Linked DNA regions of Homo sapiens. The protein of the gene in region 2 interacts with the protein of the main gene of each other region in a biochemical or structural test. Each region holds a gene or a part of one and is shown on either strand. Other genes may lie near its edges.

Region 1 (7,086 bases), on a different chromosome or scaffold from region 2:
TGTGAAAAGCTGAAACAAATAATGTTTAATTTTTTTCAGAGACAAGGTTTCACTCTGTCACCCAGGCTGGAATGCAGTAGTGTGATCACAGCTCACCGCAGCCTCAACTGCCCAGGCTCAAGTAATCCTCCCACCTCAGCTCCCCATAGTAACTGCCACTACAGGCACGTGCAACCACGACCGGCTAATTTTTGCAGTTTTTGTATTCTTTGCAGAGATGGGGTTTTGTCATGTTGTCCAGGCTGGTCAAGAACTCCTGGACTCAAGGGATCTGCTCACCTTGGCCTTCCGAAGTGCTGCGATTACAGGCGTAAGCCACCTTGCCCAGGCTAAGAATTTTTTAAAAGCTGATAAGAACTTAAAAAGAGTTATACTTCCTTAGTATGAGAATTGTATTGTGGTTATACAAGATAATGTCCCTGTTCTTCTGAACAGGAAGTGGAAAACGTCGACAATTCTCAAATGGCTCAGAAAAAAAAGAAAAACAGAGACATAAACATGGCAAAATGTTAACTAATAAATCTTTGTGAAGGGTGTATGGGTAGTAATAACACAACTTTTCTTTAGGTTTGAAATTTTTCTTTTTTTTTTTTTTTTGAGACAGTCTCACTCTGTCACCCAGGCTGGAATGCAATGGCATGATCTCGGCTTACTACAACCTCCGCCTCTCGGGTTCAAGCGATTCTCCTGCCTCAGCCTCCCAAGTAGCTGGGATTACAGGTGCACGCCACCACACCCGGATAATTTTTGTATTTTAGTAGAGACAGGGTTTCACATTGTTGGCCAGGCTGGTCTTGAACTCCTGTCATCAGGTGATCCACCCGCCTCAGCCTCCCAAAGTGCTGGTATTACAGGCGTGAGCCACCACACTGGATCTTAGGTTTGAAATTCTTCTAAATGCAAAAATCAATACAGGACTGTCCCTCAAAAGGAGTTATAATACTGAAAGAAGCGTCAACATACAGAAATGTCATGAATAAAAAAGGAATGCCTGGGAACTAGGAATGTATCTGTGCTCCATCTTCCACCACTTCAAAGAAACTGCTTTCCCCAATTATCAAAGATCTCCTTGTCAATACTCAATATATGCTCTTCACATTTTGTTTTGACTGCTCCTTCCTCCTTTCTCAAGTTTCTTCTTTCATGACCCACCCGTCGGCGTATCCCTAGGGTTCTACACTTGGTCCTCTTCTCTTCTGAGATATCTAATCCATTTCCATGAGTATACACTAACACTTTAACGACCTCCAAACATCTCTCTTTAATACCACTTTCCCAAGATACACATTCTTTTTTTATTTTTATTTTTTTTTTGAGACAGGGTCTCACTCTGTCATGCAGGCTGGAGTGCAGGGGCACAATCACGGCTCACCGCAGCCTCGACCTCCTGGGCTCAGGTGATCCTCCCACCTCAGTTTCCTGAGTAGCTAGGACTACAGGCCGCCACCATGCCTGGCTAATTTTTGTATTTTTTGTAGAGACTGGGTTTCGCCATGCTGCCCAGGCTGATCTCAAACTCCTGGGCTCAAGCGATCTGCCTGCCTCAGCCTCCCAAAGTGCTGGGATTACAGGTGTGAGCCACCGCGCCCGGCCCAACACGGTCATATGTACAACTACTCCACACATGTCCTGACCAAACTCATTATCTGCCTCTCACCTCAATCTTGCTTTTCCTCCCATCCATATGTCCTATCTCAGTTTCTGGCCTGAAGCCTAAACCTTGTTCAATGTCTAAATTTCCCTTTAAAGCAGAGGTTCTTTACAGTTTTTGTGCTCTGGATTCTGTAGTAGGCAGAATTTTGGCCCCACGACCTTCACTTTCTGGTGTCATGCGGGTGAATATGTTATATTACACAGCAAAAGGGACTTCACAAACGTAATTAAGGTTACCAGTCGACAGTAACATAGGGAGATTATCCTGGATTTTACAGGTGGTTCCAAAGTAATCACATGAGCTCTTAAAAGTAGAGAATTTTCTCTGGCTGTAGACAAGTGATGGAGCAAAAGGGGAAGCAACACATATCTGAAGGGCAGGAAAGATTCGATGTGTCATTACAGGCTTCAAAATAAAGAAAACTGCATGTCAAGGAAACAGGGACCTCTGTTCTACAACCACAATATTTACGGTAGATCTATCTGACTGTCAAAATACCAAAGTGCTCCACGTGGCCAAATAAAAGGGCAATTCCTTCCAGGACCCCAAAACGGGAGTCTGGTCCCTCTGCATATGACCCCTGTCTGTGTCGAGTTAAGGGTGTTCCTCTCCTTACTATACCTACAGAAGAAAATCTTTATTGTGTAACCAAACTTTAAAAGTCCTCCACAGTCGGCTCTGAAACTACGTATCCCAGAGAGGGGAACATCTCCTGCATCTGTTCATCCGGAAAGACAGGCACACTTCAGACCCTTAAAACCAGACCGTGCGTTAAGGGCAACGCACGCGCCAGACCTCCAGTAAATAGGCGAGTTAAAAAAAAAAAAAAAAGAAAATAAAAGAAAGAAAGAAAGAAAAGAAGAAGAAAGAAAGAGAGAAAGAGACAGAGAAAGAGAAAGAGGAAAAAAAGAAAAAAAAAAAAAAAAAGCACAATCCATAAGGGGAAATTCCGGCCGGAGAAAACAGAGAATGGAAGACTCCGGAGGAGTACTAGAAAAATCGAGCCTTCCACCCGCTACAGGTATCCCTGAGGCGTCGGGCACGAGACCCCGCTCCCAGCAGGCCTCCAGGCCGCCCCTTGCCCGGCTCCTTCGCACCGCCTGCTCCAGCAAGGAGGAGGGCGGCGCGCAGGAGGCCAGCGCTGGGGACCAGGAACCCTACCTCTCAGCGATGTAAAGGGTACCAGTGCCGAGGCCCTTCCCGTTCAGCACAGCCTCAGTGTCTGGCTGCTGCCGCAGGAGCCCCTCCGCTGGCCCAGGCGGCGGGAAACTTTTGAGGAAGCTCATAGCAGCAGAGTGCGGCAACACAGGCCCTGAGGGAGTTGGAGCACAGCAATGCGTGCACCACACCGCCCGCCCTGGAAGAGGCAGTCACCCCGGAAGAACAACTTAGTCTGCCCCGGAATCTGAACGCCGTCGACCATAGAGATGAGACATTCTAGGAAAAGCGGCGGAGGTCGGCTAAGAACGTGTGGAGTTTGACCGCGCAACACCCTTCCCCTTCTTCCTCGCCATTTCTGAGGCTTTGGGCTTCAATAACTGAGGGTTCTGTGGGAAGTCCCTCAGGATTGTCACAGTGAAACCACCACTGCAAAATTATAACTGAGACACTGAAAGCGATCTGACCTACCCAAATCCATGTTGTTTCTAACCTCCAAACTGTCCTTGTTCATTGCTGGATATAGGCTGAACTAACTTTGGGAGGAACTTAGTTTACAGTTTGAAGTTTAAAACAAAGATGATGACAGCCTTTTCCCAAAACAAACTTCCTTCTTGCCTGGGGACTGGACTGCCTTTGTAGGACTAACAAATCAGCCACAAGATTAGAAATTATGGTTTAGATTAGAAATTACAGCTGCAAGCTACAAGATTCTGACCCTCCCTAAACTGCACCTAAGATCGGTGCTTGAGATATGTTGCAGACCCTGCACTTGATGGATCAGCTGGCACCACCAGATGGATAAACTGGCTATGTGATCTTGTGCCCCCTCCCCACCAACCCAGGAACTGACTCAGCGCAAGAGGACAGCTTCAACTCCCTGTGACTTCATCTCCCACCCAACCAATCAGCACTCTTGACTCACTGGCCTTCCCCAACCTGCCAAATTATCCTTAAAAACTTGGATCCCTGGCTGGGCGCGGTGGCTCACGCCTGTAATCCCAGCACTTTGGGAGGCCGAGGCGGGCGGATCACGAGGTCAGGAGATCAAGACCATTCTGGCTAACATGGTGAAACCCCGTCTCTACTAAAAATACAAAAAAATTAGCCGGGTGTGGTGGCAGGCGCCTGTGGTCCCAGCTACTGGGGAGGCTGAGGCAGGAGAATGGCGTGAACCCGGGAGGCAGAGCTTGCAGTGAGCCGAGATAGCGCCACTGCACTCCAGCCTGGGCGACAGAGCGAGACCCCGTCTCAAAAAAAAAAAAAAAACAACAAAAAACAAAAAACAAAAAAACTTTGATCCCTGAATGCTCTGGGAAACTGATTTGAGTAAAAATAAAACTCTAGGCCGGGTGCAGTGGCTCATGCTTGTAATCCCAGCACTTTGGGAGGCCGAGGCGGGCAGATCACGAGGACAGGAGATCGAGACCAGCCTGGCTAACACGGTGAAACCCCGTCTCGACTAAAAATACAAAAACAAAATTAGCCGGGCGTGGTGGCAGGTGCCTGTAGTCCCAGCTACTCGGGAGGTTGAAGCGGGAGAATGGCGTGAACCCGAGAGGCGGAGCTTGCAGTGAGCCGAGGTCGCGCCTTGGCACTCCAGCCTGGGCGACAGAGAGAGACTCCGTCTCAAAACAACAACAACAAACTCTAGTCTCCTGCACAGCAGCTCTGCGTGAATTACTGTTTTTCTGTTACAATTTCCATCTTGATAAATCAGCTCTGTCTAGGCAACAGGCAAGGTGAACCCATTGGGCCATTACAGCAGCAACCCTGTTACAACCCTGTAACCCAGTTACATACAACCCTGTTGTAACTGCCCAATGGGATCACCGTGCCTGCTGCTTAGACAGAGCCTATTTATCAAGACAGGGGAATTGCAATAGAGAAAGAGTAATACACCGGTGGCAATGGCTCACGCCTGTAATCCCAGCATTTTGGAGGCCGAGGCGGACGGATCACCTGACGTCGGGAATTCGAGACCAGCCTGACCAACATGGAGAAACCCCGTCTCTACTAAAAATGCACAATTAGCCTGGCGTGGTGGCGCATGCCTGTAATCCTAGCTACTCGGGAGGCTGAGGCAGGAGAATTGCTTGAACCCGGGAGGCGGAGGTTGCGGTGAGCCGAGATCACGCCATTGCACTCCAGCCTGGGCAACAAGAGCGAAACACTGTCTCAAAAAAAAAAAAAAAAAAAAAAAAAAACAAAGAGAGAAAGACTAATACATGGAGTCCCTTGCCAAAGGATGCATAGGACATAGAGACCACTCATCTGGAGCTCAGAAGTCTCCCAACTCGGTTATGATGTTCTGATCTGGCCACCCCGTCCCCATCTCCTGGGACTGTTCACATCTCAGGTATACACAACCAAGTAGCATACATCAATCTAGGTCCTTATACTGCCCTAGTGCACAAGCCACGTCCCCACGTGTCAGGTGGGCAGATAAGTATAAAGGGTTAATAAGGGCAGGGTGAAGAGCTAGCTACATCAGTAAGGAGCTGGGGCACTGACTGGAAAGGAATTAATCCACCAAAATTGCAATTGATGTTTTGTTTCTTCGTTAGGCACTAAAGAGTATAGTAGTAATAGGAAGAAAGACTTCCAAAATCGTCATAATGGTAGCTAAAGTTAACGAGTGTTCTGTGCCAGGCTCTCTTCCAGGCACTTTACCTGCACTTTGCTTGCATCATCTCTTCATTTACTCTTTGCAAGTTTGTGAAGTTACTATTATTGACCCACTTTACAGATGAGAGACCTGAGGCATTAAACTCAAGAGCAATAATTTGGCCATGAGAGAACAAGTGAAATTCAAGTAAATCCCCTTGTAAACTCAGTATGGTAATACCTTTGCAGTAGGACTGCTGAGGCTGGAGGACAGGATGTGTGGGGTAGTTTTGTTTCTATCTTCTCAACAGTTAGGCTGGCATTAAATTTTTAACGTGTTTGAGATCAGCCTGGGCAACATAGTGAGACCCCCATCTCTACCAAAAAATAAATAAATAAATTAGCCCAGCATGGTGGCATGTGCCTGTGATCCCAGCTACTTGGGAGGCTGAGGTGAGAGGATCATTTGAGCCTCAGAAGTGGAGGCTACAGTGAGCCATGATTGTGCCACTGCACTCTAGCCTGGGTGGCAGAGCAAGACTCCATCTCAAAAAAATTTTTTTTTCCTTTAACGTAGACTAGTTTGTTGGTAGTGTTAAAGTGAATTAAATATGGGTTGAGGAGGGCTCTGTACTTCTATATTTGAGTCCTTGTGGATGCACTGTAACCTAAGTTAATAGGGAGATAACTTTGAAAACCTAACTTAGGAGTATTCACCTGTAACAATAGTTGAGCCTTGGCCAATCCCAGCAGCCATACTTCAACAACTCATACACTGTTGAGTGTTCAAACTGTGTTCAAATAAGGCAGATGCCAACCTGTAACCAACCCAGCTGTTTCTGTACCTCACTTCCAATTCTTGTACATCACTTCTCTTGTTTTTTGTCTATAAATTTGTTGTGACCATGAGGCATCCCTGGAATCTCTCTGAATCTGCTGTGATTCTGGGGGCTGCTTGATTTGCAAATTATTCATTGCTCAATTAAACTCCTTGAAATTTAATTCTGCTGAAGTTTTTCTTTTAACAGATGGTGTCAGAAGTGGGATCTGAAGTAGAGGTTGTAACGATCCCCAGGAGTGCTGAGTGAACAAGCAAGTTACCTGCAGAATCCACTGTGTCCTTTGATCTGTCACAGCAGCTGGGGTTCCTGGTAAGTTCTCTCTCAGATTTCAGAGCTCCACAGATTAGTGTTTTGAGCTCTCTGAGTTCCTTTTTTTTTTTTTTCTGAGACAGAGTTTTGCTCTTGTTGCCCAGGCTGAGTGCAATGGCGAGATCTTGGCTCACTGTGACCTCCGCCTCCTGGGTTCAAGCAATTCTCCTGCCCCCTCCTGAGTAGCTGGGATTACAGGCATGCACCACCACACCCAGCTAATTTTTTATATTTTTAGTAGAGATGGGGTTTCTCCATGTTGGCCAGGCTGGTCTGGAGCTCCTGACCTTCAAGTGATCCACCCACCTCAGCCTCCCAAAGTGCTGGGATTACAGGCATAAGCCACCACACCCGGCCAGCTCTCTGAGTTTCTTTGAGCAAATTTCTTTTCCAAACTAGGTTTAGAAGTTGCGACAGAAACTAGACTGGGTCCAGGATCAAATTTGATCTGGTAATTAACTGGCTTGAATCCAGTTAGAGGCCTTTTATATCTGACTAGGCCAGAAAGAAACTGGT
Region 2 (7,016 bases):
TTTTTCTTTTTTTTAGAGGGAGTCTCACTCTGTCACCCAGGCTGTAGTGTAGTGGCTCGATCTCGGCTCAGTGCAGCCTCCACCTCCCGGGTTCAAACAATTCTCATGCCTCAGCCTCCCGAGTAGCTGGGTTTACAGGTGTGTGCCACCACGCCCAGCTAATTTTTAGTAGAGACAGGGTTTCACCCTGTTGGCCGGGCTGGTCTCAAACTCCTGACCTCAGGTGATCTGCCTGCCTCAGCCTCCCATTGTGTTGGGATTACAGGCATAAGCCACTGTGCCCGGCCTCTGAATTTTTCTTTTTTATTTTATTTTTAGAGACAGGGTCTTTCTGTTGTCACCCAGGCAATCCTCTCACCTCTTAGCCTCCCAAGTAGCTGGGACTACAGGTGTGGACTACCACACCTGACTAATTTTTTTTAAAAAACTTTTTTGTAGAGATGGAGTCTCACTATGCTGTCCCAAACTCCTGGCCTCAAGTGATCCACCGCGCCTGGTCCCCACCTGGAATTTTTCTTTTCTTTTCTTTTGAGATGAAATCTCACCCAGGCTGGAGTGCAGTGGCACAATCTTGGCTCACTGCAACCTTCACCTCCCGGGTTCAAGTGATTCTCCTGCCTCAGCCTCCCGAGTAGCTGGAAGTACAGGTGCCTGCCACCACGCCTGGCTAATTTTTGTATTTTTAGTAGAGATGGGGTTTCACCATGTTTGTCAGGCTGGTCTCGAACTCCTGACCTCATGAACCGCCCACCTCGGCCTCCCAAAGTGCTGGGATTACCGGTGTGAGCCACCACGCCCAGCCTGGAATTTTTCTTATACTGAAGTTTGTGTCTGCATGACTCGAGCATATGATGATATGTATTTGATTATTGTGGGTCTAGTGCGTGGTTTTCCCTAAAAGCACCATGTCTTCCCTTCAGTGTGCTTGAGACTCCTCCAGGTGCAGAGGAGCGAGTGACCCTCCAGGGCCACATAGGAAGGGAGGAATAGGGTCTAGACCAATCCTTGGGCCTCTTGCCTCACTCAAGGGGAAGGGCAGGGCTAGGAAGAAGTGCATCTTGTCCTTGAGACCAGCCAGGAATTCCTGAAGGCAGGACTTACACCCTCTATACCCTCTATATCCTCTGAATCTTTTTGGTGGCAGGGGTGTCTAAAGGCCTCAGAATTTCAGGTGCTATCCTTTCCAGTGGTATGTGTCTGGAAGGGTTCCCAGGAGAATGACATTTTTGTGTTTGTTTTGCCTTTTTTGCTCTACTAGAGAAAGACATTCTATTTTTTTCTTTTTTTTTTGAGATGGAGGCTCGCTCTGTTGCCCAAGCTGGAGTGCAGTGGTGTGATCTCGGCTCACTGCAACCTCCGCCTCCTGGGTTCATGCAATTCTACTGCCTCAGCCTCCCGAGTAGCTGAGATTACAGGCATGTGTCAACACGCCCGGCTAATTTTGGTATTTTTAGTAGAGATGGGGTTTCACCATGTTGGCCAGGCTGGTCTCGAACTCTTGACCTCAGGTGATCTAAACGCTTTGGCCTCCCAAAGTGCTGGGATTACAGGTGTGAGCCACCCCACTGGACCGAGAATGACATTCTAATAGTGGAGACATAGACCCCTGGTCCCTGGATTACCCACTTGGGTGGGCCACCATCTCTCCTTGACTCCCTGTGAGGCAGGGCAGAGCCAAGCCTGTGCCCCGCTGGGGACTCCACCGTCCTTCACACCTCACCTTCCACATGGCCAGGACCAGGATGGTGAGCAGCAGCAGGCCACCCAGCACACCCACCAGCACCCACCAGATTGGAATGGCCCTCTCCTCCAAGGCCCGGAGCAGCTGTGTCCACACCTGGGGGCAAACCCACGTGTCTCCTCAGTCACCTTGACACCTGCCTTTCACAAAGACTCAAACCTCAGGCTGGTGACCTCCAGCCATGCCACCCACCCGTACCACCCCTCAGACTTTTCTGGCTGGGCACTGACTGGGGGACAATGGGTCCTGCAGGACTGGTCTCTGCTCCATCCCCCCACACTCACCTGAGCTTCCCCTCGGGGCAGGCTGAGCGGGGGCACCGCATAGGGGAGGGAGGACACGTTGAACCATGCGTGCGACTGCAGCACAAACTGATCCAGAGGCCTCTGGACAGGTTGGGGTTGAAAGCCGTTTACACCCACAAGAGGCCTATTGGTTGCAGGAGTCCAGGTCCCACACCCCCGGCGGGGAAGCCCTGCCTCTGACCTAATCCCACTGCAATCCCCCAAAGTAAACCTTGCCTTCCCTCTCTTCCTGCCCTCCCACACCAAACCCCGCCCCTCCCAGAGCAAAGTGGTCCCCGCCCAGAAGGCCCGGCCCCGCCCCACCACGGCCCACCCCACCTGGTAGAGGCTGGGCAGCCACAGGAAGGCCAGCACCGTGACCATGGCCCGCTGCCCGCGCGCCATCTCCTGCAGGTCACACTGCACCACAGTACAGGGCGCCGAGTCGCAGCTCTGAGGGGAAGCATCGTCAGTCCCCAGCCCGTCCCGGCCCATCACCCCATCATCCCCCACCCCCTTACCCCCAGGACCCAACGCAGAAGGGGCCGGGGGTTCAGGAAGCGGTGGCCTTCCCATCAGGAAGGGCCTTGGATCCAAGCTTCGGATGCTGTCTTTCCACGGGCTTGCTCACATAGTCCCAGAGATGCAGGGAGGGTCATCCCCCAGCGCACAATGCTCAGATCTATGATAACCTTGCTTTGGCATTGTTTTATGCTCCTTAACGTACTGGGAAGCTTTTAAAAAGTGCAAGTGTCTTTCAGCTCACCCCAGACACAAGCCAGCATGCTCCTCCATGTTCACTTGAAGTGCTCCCAGGGACCAAGCGTGGCCCACAGAGGCCCACAGCACACCCGGACCCCTCTCCCTCCTCCCATCCCCTCTGCCCCGTGGGTCCCGGGGAGGCCGGGCCAGAGACCAGAGAGCCTGCTCACTACGAGAACTGGATCCTGAAGCCTCGAGGGCTGCTCGGGCTCTGGCAGGAAGATCTGTCTGCGATCCCGCTTGTGATGGGCCGGGTGAATGGGGGAGGGGCTGGGGATGGGCAGCCCCCAGTCCACCTGGGGGGGCAAAGGAGTGGTCAGGCCCAGGTCTCCCCCGAACCCCAGCCCACAGAGGTGCCCCGGTGGTTGGTCTGGGGCCGCCTTCCCAGGTCTTTCTTCCACCCAGCTCTTACCTTGAGAGGGTTGACAGGAGGCTGTGGGAAGCACTGAAGGCCCCCCTGGGGCTGTATATCCAGGATGTAGAGCAGGTCGGAGGGCTGGGACTGTCCCGGAAGGTGGATGCTGAGGTGAAGACCATTCACAGTCCCAGGGCCATTGTTGTGGAGCTGAAGGGGTGGTGGTGGCAGGGTGTGGGGAGCTTAGCGCCTCACCCGGAGTTCTGAGGACCCGCTCACCCCAGCCAGGGACGCGAGGCTCCCCAATACCTCATAGGTGTGCTCCACTTTGGGTCCCCAGCTGTCCAAGCTGTTCTGCTCCCTCTCACCTTCTTCTGCTGCCACCACCAGGGAGGCTGGAAAGGAGTTCCTGCAGGTGCCCAAGACCCCCAGAGAGAGTGTGATGCCCTGATTGGCCTGTGAGGTTTCCCCAGCGCCCCCTGGAGTTTAGAGCCCTGAATGCCATCTCCCTTCTCCACCCCTGGCCTCTCACCCTCGCAGCTCCACTTGGGCCTCTGCCCGGACCGGCACGTCCAGCAGCACAATCTTGCTGTTTGGATTCTGGCTGTTCTTGCTAGAGGGGAGGGGATGAGGAGAAACAGGGCCAGGGACACCAGCCCAGTGACTTTCTGGGGGTGAGGCCAGAATTTTAGAGAGTTCAGAGAGAGCTAATTATACAAAGAGCATGCCACACTGAAGTTAGACCTGGGAAAGAACTTCCTCTAGGGCTCCAAGACTCAGACATAAATCTCTGAGGAAGAAAGGGAACCAGGCTTCTTCAAAGACCTTTTTTTTTTTCTTTTGAGATAGAATCTCGCACTGTCGCCCAGGCTGGAAGGCTGGAGTGCAGTGGCCCAATCTCAGCTCACTGCAACCTCCACCTCCCAGGTTCGGTTCAAGCTATTCTCCTGCCTCAGCCTCCCGAGTAGCTGGGATTGTAGGTGCGCACCACCATGCCCAGCTAATTTTTATATTTTTAGTAGAGATGGGGTTTCACCATGTTGGCCAGGCTGGTCTCCAACTCCTGACCTCCAGTGATCCTTCTGCCTTGGCCTCGCAACGTGCTGGGATTACAGGTGTGAGCCACTGCGCCTGGCCTCGAAAGACCCTTCTGTATGGAAGGGACCTGAGGGGCTCTGCACGGGGGTCAGACGGGGGAAGGGTGGTGGGTAGGCACGCTCGCCAGGTCAGTACCTCCGTATCTGCAGCTGGAAGGACACAGACTCCCCAGCCTCTTCCAGATTCCCCACGCTCACCAACATCGCGATTCCTATCTGGGAGATGAGGAGGGCCAAGGTCACTGCCCAAGTGCCCCACTTAGGACAGCCCTGCCCTGAATGTGGCCTCCAGTCTTCACCCTCCAAGATCACCACTATTCTTTTTCTTTTTTTTTTTTTCCGAGACGGAGTCTCACTCTGTCACCCAGGCTGGAGTGCAGTGGCATGATCTCGGCTCACTGCAACCTCCACCTCCCAGGTTCAAGTGATTTTTCTGCCTCAACCTCCCGAGTAGCTCTGACTATAGGCGTGCGCCACCATGCCCGGGTAATTTTTGTATTTTTAGTAGAGACGGGGTTTTGCTATGTTGGCCAGGCTGGTCTTGAACTCCTGACCTCGTGATCCACCCGTCTCGGCCTCCCAGAGTGCTGGGATTACAGGCGTGAGCCACCGCACCAGGCCACCATTATTATTTCTATTTTACCTGGAAGCCCACTGGGTAAAGGGGCTCAGAGAGGGAAAGTCACTCACCCAAGGACATGTGGCAAGGGAGTGTGAGGACCAAGATTCTGGCCCAGAACTATGTGGCTCTAAAACCTCACCCCTAAAATCTGGTTATTCATGAGCCCCTGGTGGAGACCCGGTACCACGACCCAGCAGCCTCACCTGGGCGTTCTTCTTCATGGGGTTGCCCAGCTCACACAGCACCACCCTGGTCTCATTCTCCTTCTTCTGATTACAGATGAGTCTCTCAAAGCCCTTCAGGAAGGCAGTTCCAAGAAAGAAATTACAGAGCATCATATATATATATTTAAGCTCCCTTGGAAGGTCTGGAAAGATTTGTGTGCCAAGGTAGGGAGGGGGGGGTTTCTTGGGGTGGGGTCTCAAGGGACTGTCACATGCTAGTGTGTGTATTGCTGTAGCACTACTACTTTTTAGGCATTTTCATTTTGGAAATAAAAAACACAAAACATTAGAGTATGACCCCCATTATTATAAACTATATTAACAACATAAAAAATAAATATATACTTATGTGAGTGTGAGTCAATATTGAAAAAAAGACTGGAAGGAAATCCACCAAATGTTAACAGAGGTTCCTGTTAACATTTGGTTCCTAAACCTTTTTTGTTTTTCTGGTTTTTGTAATAGAGTTTTGGAATTCTGTGCCATTAGCAAGTATTCCTCCTCCAAATTAAAAAAAAAATAAAAAATTACATCTTTGACAGCAAAGCAGAAGAGAAGAGGGACTCTCAGGGAGGGAGATGAGAGAGCCAAGGCTCCAGTGCCTCCCAGGTCCCGGGTACTGTTCCCAGGGTGGGGGCCATACCTCGACATTGCTTAGGGCCCGCATGTAGTGGGCGCCCTGGGGCAGGTGCACGGCCAGCTCTGCTTCATAGGCCCCCTCGCCCTCGTTGGCTGCGTCCATCTGCAGCTCCAGGACATTATCTGCCCCAACTAGGAGCGGGGAGCCCGTCCTGTGGGGAAAGAGGAGTGAAGCCAGGGAGCCTGGGTCTGGGCCCAGGATGTGGGAAAAGAGGGGACTAAGGTGTGGAGCAGGTATGATAGGCAGAAAGGGCCAGGGTCGGGCAGAATGGGAGGCCTCCTCACACGCTGGCAGTGAGCTGAAGCTGGGGCACACATACGTCATCTTCCCCACAGTCCAGGACGATTCGTGTCTAGAGGGGCACATTGGGGTGTGCGGGTAAGTTGGGGATGTGTGAGGTTTAGGGATTACATCAGGGTTAGGAAAACAGTGGGCTTGGGGTTCACATAGGGGCTTAGGGAGTAAGAAGATCTGAGGACGAAAAGGAGTTTGTAGATGGTATCGGGGCTCGGGTTTATTTGGAGGTTTGGGACAATGTCAGGGTTTGTCAATTTACATCAGAGCTTAGGGGATACTGGGATTTTCAGGTGTTTATTTTATTTTTGGAGACGGAGTCTCGCTCTGTCGTCCAGGCTGGAGTGCAGTGGCACTATCTCGGCTCACTGCAAGCTCCGCCCCCCGGGGTTCACGCCATTCTCCTGCCTCAGCCTCCCAAGTAGCTGGGACTACAGGTACCCGCCACCACGCCCAGCTAATTTTTTTTTTTTTTTTGTATTTTTAGTAGACGGGGTTTCACTGTGTTAGCCAGGATGGTCTTGATCTCCTGACCTCGTGATCCACCCGCCTTGGCCTCCCAAAGTGCTGGGATTACAGGCGTGAGCCACTGCGCCTGGCTTTTTTTTTTTTTTTTGAGACAGAGTCTTGCTCTGTCACCCAGGCTGGAGTGCTGTGGCACACTCTTGGCTCACTGCAACCTCTGCCTCCTGGGTTCAAGTGATTCTCCTGCTTCAGCCTCCCGAGTAGCTGGAATTACAGGCATGCGTCACCACACCCGGCTAATTTTTTTTGTATTTTTAGTAGAGATGGGTTTTCACCATGTTGGCCAGGTTGGTCTCTAACTCCTGACCTCAGGCAATCTGCCTGCCTCGGTCTCCCAAAGTGCTGGGATTACAGGTGTGAGCCACCATGACTGGCTGGATTTTGAGGTTTTCATTAGGGTTTGGAATGACATCAAGGTTTTGGGGTTCACATTGTGACTTGGCACTAACCCTAATCCTGATTTGCTATCAGG

What was found. Proteins that work in one complex are often made in the same cells at the same time.
Region 1: the proteins of ITGA2B (region 2) and CLNS1A form a complex in vitro, tested with the Homo sapiens proteins (one study listed by BioGRID).

The regions. Positions count from the first base shown.
Region 1 is NC_000011.10:77,634,775-77,641,860, forward strand, and holds the start of CLNS1A (methylosome subunit pICln), read right to left. Parts: upstream 3,021-7,086; 5' UTR 2,941-3,020; coding exon 2,816-2,940; intron 1-2,815. UniProt on the Homo sapiens protein: Involved in both the assembly of spliceosomal snRNPs and the methylation of Sm proteins.
Region 2 is NC_000017.11:44,372,634-44,379,649, forward strand, and holds part of ITGA2B (integrin alpha-IIb preproprotein), read right to left. Parts: intron 6,078-7,016; coding exon 6,010-6,077; intron 5,877-6,009; coding exon 5,729-5,876; intron 5,158-5,728; coding exon 5,065-5,157; intron 4,456-5,064; coding exon 4,376-4,455; intron 3,756-4,375; coding exon 3,675-3,755; intron 3,552-3,674; coding exon 3,452-3,551; intron 3,353-3,451; coding exon 3,200-3,352; intron 3,084-3,199; coding exon 2,958-3,083; intron 2,479-2,957; coding exon 2,365-2,478; intron 2,128-2,364; coding exon 2,026-2,127; intron 1,838-2,025; coding exon 1,721-1,837; intron 1-1,720. UniProt on the Homo sapiens protein: Integrin alpha-IIb/beta-3 is a receptor for fibronectin, fibrinogen, plasminogen, prothrombin, thrombospondin and vitronectin. It recognizes the sequence R-G-D in a wide array of ligands.